2 linked regions of the Homo sapiens genome follow. The gene in region 1 interacts genetically with each later gene. Each region holds a gene or a part of one and is shown on either strand. Other genes may lie near its edges.

What was found.
Region 2: changes in PDGFRA (region 1) and CFTR together harm fitness more than expected from each alone (negative genetic interaction), as found in Homo sapiens cells (one study listed by BioGRID).

Annotation. Positions count from the first base shown.
Region 1 is NC_000004.12:54,295,293-54,299,077, forward strand, and holds the end of PDGFRA (platelet-derived growth factor receptor alpha isoform 1 precursor), read left to right. Parts: 3' UTR 1-2,953; downstream 2,954-3,785. UniProt on the Homo sapiens protein: Tyrosine-protein kinase that acts as a cell-surface receptor for PDGFA, PDGFB and PDGFC and plays an essential role in the regulation of embryonic development, cell proliferation, survival and chemotaxis.
Region 2 is NC_000007.14:117,608,734-117,612,565, forward strand, and holds part of CFTR (cystic fibrosis transmembrane conductance regulator), read left to right. Parts: intron 1-1,785; coding exon 1,786-1,936; intron 1,937-2,847; coding exon 2,848-3,075; intron 3,076-3,832. UniProt on the Homo sapiens protein: Epithelial ion channel that plays an important role in the regulation of epithelial ion and water transport and fluid homeostasis. Mediates the transport of chloride ions across the cell membrane.

The sequences.
Region 1 (3,785 bases):
CTTCCACTTCTGGGGCCACCTCTGGATCCCGTTCAGAAAACCACTTTATTGCAATGCAGAGGTTGAGAGGAGGACTTGGTTGATGTTTAAAGAGAAGTTCCCAGCCAAGGGCCTCGGGGAGCGTTCTAAATATGAATGAATGGGATATTTTGAAATGAACTTTGTCAGTGTTGCCTCTTGCAATGCCTCAGTAGCATCTCAGTGGTGTGTGAAGTTTGGAGATAGATGGATAAGGGAATAATAGGCCACAGAAGGTGAACTTTGTGCTTCAAGGACATTGGTGAGAGTCCAACAGACACAATTTATACTGCGACAGAACTTCAGCATTGTAATTATGTAAATAACTCTAACCAAGGCTGTGTTTAGATTGTATTAACTATCTTCTTTGGACTTCTGAAGAGACCACTCAATCCATCCATGTACTTCCCTCTTGAAACCTGATGTCAGCTGCTGTTGAACTTTTTAAAGAAGTGCATGAAAAACCATTTTTGAACCTTAAAAGGTACTGGTACTATAGCATTTTGCTATCTTTTTTAGTGTTAAAGAGATAAAGAATAATAATTAACCAACCTTGTTTAATAGATTTGGGTCATTTAGAAGCCTGACAACTCATTTTCATATTGTAATCTATGTTTATAATACTACTACTGTTATCAGTAATGCTAAATGTGTAATAATGTAACATGATTTCCCTCCAGAGAAAGCACAATTTAAAACAATCCTTACTAAGTAGGTGATGAGTTTGACAGTTTTTGACATTTATATTAAATAACATGTTTCTCTATAAAGTATGGTAATAGCTTTAGTGAATTAAATTTAGTTGAGCATAGAGAACAAAGTAAAAGTAGTGTTGTCCAGGAAGTCAGAATTTTTAACTGTACTGAATAGGTTCCCCAATCCATCGTATTAAAAAACAATTAACTGCCCTCTGAAATAATGGGATTAGAAACAAACAAAACTCTTAAGTCCTAAAAGTTCTCAATGTAGAGGCATAAACCTGTGCTGAACATAACTTCTCATGTATATTACCCAATGGAAAATATAATGATCAGCAAAAAGACTGGATTTGCAGAAGTTTTTTTTTTTTTTTTCTTCATGCCTGATGAAAGCTTTGGCGACCCCAATATATGTATTTTTTGAATCTATGAACCTGAAAAGGGTCAGAAGGATGCCCAGACATCAGCCTCCTTCTTTCACCCCTTACCCCAAAGAGAAAGAGTTTGAAACTCGAGACCATAAAGATATTCTTTAGTGGAGGCTGGATGTGCATTAGCCTGGATCCTCAGTTCTCAAATGTGTGTGGCAGCCAGGATGACTAGATCCTGGGTTTCCATCCTTGAGATTCTGAAGTATGAAGTCTGAGGGAAACCAGAGTCTGTATTTTTCTAAACTCCCTGGCTGTTCTGATCGGCCAGTTTTCGGAAACACTGACTTAGGTTTCAGGAAGTTGCCATGGGAAACAAATAATTTGAACTTTGGAACAGGGTTGGCATTCAACCACGCAGGAAGCCTACTATTTAAATCCTTGGCTTCAGGTTAGTGACATTTAATGCCATCTAGCTAGCAATTGCGACCTTAATTTAACTTTCCAGTCTTAGCTGAGGCTGAGAAAGCTAAAGTTTGGTTTTGACAGGTTTTCCAAAAGTAAAGATGCTACTTCCCACTGTATGGGGGAGATTGAACTTTCCCCGTCTCCCGTCTTCTGCCTCCCACTCCATACCCCGCCAAGGAAAGGCATGTACAAAAATTATGCAATTCAGTGTTCCAAGTCTCTGTGTAACCAGCTCAGTGTTTTGGTGGAAAAAACATTTTAAGTTTTACTGATAATTTGAGGTTAGATGGGAGGATGAATTGTCACATCTATCCACACTGTCAAACAGGTTGGTGTGGGTTCATTGGCATTCTTTGCAATACTGCTTAATTGCTGATACCATATGAATGAAACATGGGCTGTGATTACTGCAATCACTGTGCTATCGGCAGATGATGCTTTGGAAGATGCAGAAGCAATAATAAAGTACTTGACTACCTACTGGTGTAATCTCAATGCAAGCCCCAACTTTCTTATCCAACTTTTTCATAGTAAGTGCGAAGACTGAGCCAGATTGGCCAATTAAAAACGAAAACCTGACTAGGTTCTGTAGAGCCAATTAGACTTGAAATACGTTTGTGTTTCTAGAATCACAGCTCAAGCATTCTGTTTATCGCTCACTCTCCCTTGTACAGCCTTATTTTGTTGGTGCTTTGCATTTTGATATTGCTGTGAGCCTTGCATGACATCATGAGGCCGGATGAAACTTCTCAGTCCAGCAGTTTCCAGTCCTAACAAATGCTCCCACCTGAATTTGTATATGACTGCATTTGTGTGTGTGTGTGTGTTTTCAGCAAATTCCAGATTTGTTTCCTTTTGGCCTCCTGCAAAGTCTCCAGAAGAAAATTTGCCAATCTTTCCTACTTTCTATTTTTATGATGACAATCAAAGCCGGCCTGAGAAACACTATTTGTGACTTTTTAAACGATTAGTGATGTCCTTAAAATGTGGTCTGCCAATCTGTACAAAATGGTCCTATTTTTGTGAAGAGGGACATAAGATAAAATGATGTTATACATCAATATGTATATATGTATTTCTATATAGACTTGGAGAATACTGCCAAAACATTTATGACAAGCTGTATCACTGCCTTCGTTTATATTTTTTTAACTGTGATAATCCCCACAGGCACATTAACTGTTGCACTTTTGAATGTCCAAAATTTATATTTTAGAAATAATAAAAAGAAAGATACTTACATGTTCCCAAAACAATGGTGTGGTGAATGTGTGAGAAAAACTAACTTGATAGGGTCTACCAATACAAAATGTATTACGAATGCCCCTGTTCATGTTTTTGTTTTAAAACGTGTAAATGAAGATCTTTATATTTCAATAAATGATATATAATTTAAAGTTATACTAAGGTTTCAGCATTTTTGTTTTTAGTTTAATCATAAGAATTAAAGCAATCCTGTTCTATTTACTTTCTTAGCAACATTTGTAGGACTCTATATTAGGCCTTTTTTTTTTTTTTCCTGAGACGGAGTTTTGCTCTTGTCATCCAGGCTGGAGTGCAGTGGCGTGATCTCAGTTCACTGCAACTTCTGCCTCCCGAGTTCAAGCAATTCTCCTGCCTCAGCCTCCCAAGTAGCTGGGATTATAGGCGCCTGCCACCATGCCTGGCTAATTTTTGTATTTTTAGTAGAGATGGGGGTTTCATCATGTTGGCCGGGCTGGTCTCGAACTCCTGACCTTAGATGATCTGCCTGCCTCGGCCTCCCAAAGTGCTGGGATTACAGGTGTGAACCACCACGCCTGGCCTTTATTAGGCTTTTGATGAACCAATAGAATATCTAAGGTTTAAGACATTATATGAGCTAGATTGTTCCACGACACAGTATTTGACTTAAAGATGATTGGCACTTGGCTCATCTTTGGTCTCATCATTTTTTTGATTGTTCATCTTTATCCTGTGGTGTTTTCTTCCCCTGCATAAGGAATACAGGACTGCAGTAACTCTGTACAACATTCAACTGTCGTAAAAGTGTAGGAAGTAAAATGTTAAATTATTTTTTTCACCGTGTCTTCTTCCCTGTCCCTGTCCTGTTTCCAAGAGGCAGAGCTGCACCACTTGGTGTGTCTTTTAAACTTCCAGTTCCCTTTGTATGCATCTGTGTATATATATTCCCATACACACATCTCTACGTTTGCTTCATATCTACCTAAATGGGTTCTCACTTTATGTAATC
Region 2 (3,832 bases), on another chromosome or scaffold:
TGTTTTACCTCTGGTTATACTTAATTTCAAACAAATGAAATTTCATTCTATTCATGATATTTCAGAAGCAGATCTGTTGCACAAAATAAAGCATACCTATAAATTTTCTTTTTTTAAAAAAAAGTCTCTGTTCACTCTATTTTCTATTATTTTTCTCTTTTTAAAATTTGAATTTTATTGTGGCAAGTCCACTTAACATGAGATTTACCCTCTTAACAGATTTTTATGTGTAAAATACAATATTGTTCACCATGGGTAAATGTTGCACAGCAGATCTCTGGAACTTATTCATTTTGCACTACTGAAATTTTATACCTGTTGATTAGTATCTCCCCATTTCCCTCTCTCCCCTGTCCTGTTACCCATGGTTCTGTTCTTTGCTTCTTTGAGTTTGAGTATTTTGATACCTCATGTAATCTTCATTCTATTTTCTAACTTTGACAATGTTCTGACAAATTTGCTTTCCGGATTGGAGCACTGTATAGTGAAAATTGAAAATCTTGGTTATTTTCTACAGATTCCCACTATTTTACCTTGAGCAGACACTTATCTTGAAGGGTCTCAGATTTGTCACTTGTAGAATGGGGAATATAAACCTGATAATGGTCCCTTTCAGTTCTAAAGTTATATCAGTTGAAAATACATGTGTCACTTATGGTAACGGGTAGAGAACTGGCTCACTGAACAGCATATGGATATTATAAAGTGGTTTTTTTTAATCCTTTCTGCAGACAGTTACTTTATACTTTATTCAAATGGATTATTGTGAAGTACATGTTAGCGGACTTTGTACCTTTTAAAAATGTATGTATTTGGTGTAATGTAGAAATATAGAAATTTATTAAGTATGATTTATTTCAATGTTAAGCATGAGAAAATATGCTCCGAAAGGTTAGATAGCTTGCCTAAATGACAAGCTTGTATTTCAAGCAGAACTTTCTGAATCAAAAGACTCCAAGACGAATGCCCAGCTTTCAAAAACTGTCTAACCAAAATAAATCCTAAGATTCACCTTCATACTAAAATTATTTAAAAATAGTTTATTTTAAATTAATATTCACTTAAAATGTATTTATCATGCAATACTTTAAAGTGTCTGGGAAATGAAAATATCCAAAGATCAAAGAACACCATGTTTTCAAACTTCAAAAATGTTATCAGTGACCTAAACAATTTTTAAAATTTTCATAGAGCCTATGAAAAATGTACTTGCAAATGGCTACTTTCTGACTAGGAATAGAATGGGGAGAGTATTTAGTCCAACAATGATAGACTGGATTAAGAAAATGTGGCACATATACACCATGGAACACTATGCAGCCATAAAAAATGATGAGTTCATGTCCTTTGTAGGGACATGGATGAAATTGGAAAACATCATTCTCAGTAAACTATCGCAAGAACAAAAAACCAAACACCGCATATTCTCACTCATAGGTGGGAATTGAACAATGAGATCACATGGACACAGGAAGGGGAATATCACACTCTGGGGACTGTTGTGGGGTGGGGGGAGGGGGGAGGGATAGCACTGGGAGATATACCTAATGCTAGATGACGAGTTAGTGGGTGCAGTGCACCAGCATGGCACATGTATACATATGTAACTAACCTGCACAATGTGCACATGTACCCTAAAACTTAAAGTATAATAAAAAAAATAAAAAAAAGTTTGAGGTGTTTAAAGTATGCAAAAAAAAAAAAAGAAATAAATCACTGACACACTTTGTCCACTTTGCAATGTGAAAATGTTTACTCACCAACATGTTTTCTTTGATCTTACAGTTGTTATTAATTGTGATTGGAGCTATAGCAGTTGTCGCAGTTTTACAACCCTACATCTTTGTTGCAACAGTGCCAGTGATAGTGGCTTTTATTATGTTGAGAGCATATTTCCTCCAAACCTCACAGCAACTCAAACAACTGGAATCTGAAGGTATGACAGTGAATGTGCGATACTCATCTTGTAAAAAAGCTATAAGAGCTATTTGAGATTCTTTATTGTTAATCTACTTAAAAAAAATTCTGCTTTTAAACTTTTACATCATATAACAATAATTTTTTTCTACATGCATGTGTATATAAAAGGAAACTATATTACAAAGTACACATGGATTTTTTTTCTTAATTAATGACCATGTGACTTCATTTTGGTTTTAAAATAGGTATATAGAATCTTACCACAGTTGGTGTACAGGACATTCATTTATAATAAACTTATATCAGTCAAATTAAACAAGGATAGTGCTGCTATTACTAAAGGTTTCTCTGGGTTCCCAAATGATACTTGACCAAATTTGTCCCTTTGGCTTGTTGTCTTCAGACACCCTTTCTTCATGTGTTGGAGCTGCCATTTCGTGTGCCCCCAAACTCTACTTGAGCTGTTAGGGAATCACATTTTGCAGTGACAGCCTTAGTGTGGGTGCATTTTCAGGCAATACTTTTTCAGTATATTTCTGCTTTGTAGATTATTAGCTAAATCAAGTCACATAAACTTCCTTAATTTAGATACTTGAAAAAATTGTCTTAAAAGAAAATTTTTTTAGTAAGAATTAATTTAGAATTAGCCAGAAAACTCCCAGTGGTAGCCAAGAAAGAGGAATAAATATTGGTGGTAATTTTTTAAGTTCCCATCTCTGGTAGCCAAGTAAAAAAAGAGGGTAACTCATTAATAAAATAACAAATCATATCTATTCAAAGAATGGCACCAGTGTGAAAAAAAGCTTTTTAACCAATGACATTTGTGATATGATTATTCTAATTTAGTCTTTTTCAGGTACAAGATATTATGAAATTACATTTTGTGTTTATGTTATTTGCAATGTTTTCTATGGAAATATTTCACAGGCAGGAGTCCAATTTTCACTCATCTTGTTACAAGCTTAAAAGGACTATGGACACTTCGTGCCTTCGGACGGCAGCCTTACTTTGAAACTCTGTTCCACAAAGCTCTGAATTTACATACTGCCAACTGGTTCTTGTACCTGTCAACACTGCGCTGGTTCCAAATGAGAATAGAAATGATTTTTGTCATCTTCTTCATTGCTGTTACCTTCATTTCCATTTTAACAACAGGTACTATGAACTCATTAACTTTAGCTAAGCATTTAAGTAAAAAATTTTCAATGAATAAAATGCTGCATTCTATAGGTTATCAATTTTTGATATCTTTAGAGTTTAGTAATTAACAAATTTGTTGGTTTATTATTGAACAAGTGATTTCTTTGAATTTCCATTGTTTTATTGTTAAACAAATAATTTCCTTGAAATCGGATATATATATATATATGTATATATATATATATATATATATATATATACATATATATATATAGTATTATCCCTGTTTTCACAGTTTTAAAAACCGATGCACACAGATTGTCAGATAGCAATTCTGTGATTGAAGGGGAAATATGTCACCTCTTCATACTCATATTGGTGAAGGGTCCTAGCTTCAAAATTAATAGATTCCTAAAGAGGGGAAATGAAACATCCGCATTTACACACACACACACACACACACACACAGAGTTCCTCTTGTCGGTAAGTTTTGTTTTTTTTAAATCTCTACTAGATAAAATTTGTTATCTAATTGTGAGTTTTACACAAAGAAAAACTGTCACAGAAAAGAAAGACAGTGTCACATTTTTCAAAAGAAAAAGAAGAAAAGAAAGTGCCATGTTTTTCAAATACAAATGTTCTGGATTGATTTTAGGATCTTTAGTGAAAAACAAAGTATTTCATAATAAGTAAAATAAAAATCTATGTAGGTAAATTTGTTTCTCTAATTTAAGAATTTGAATTTCTGAGTATTTATGATAAGTGTTGAAAT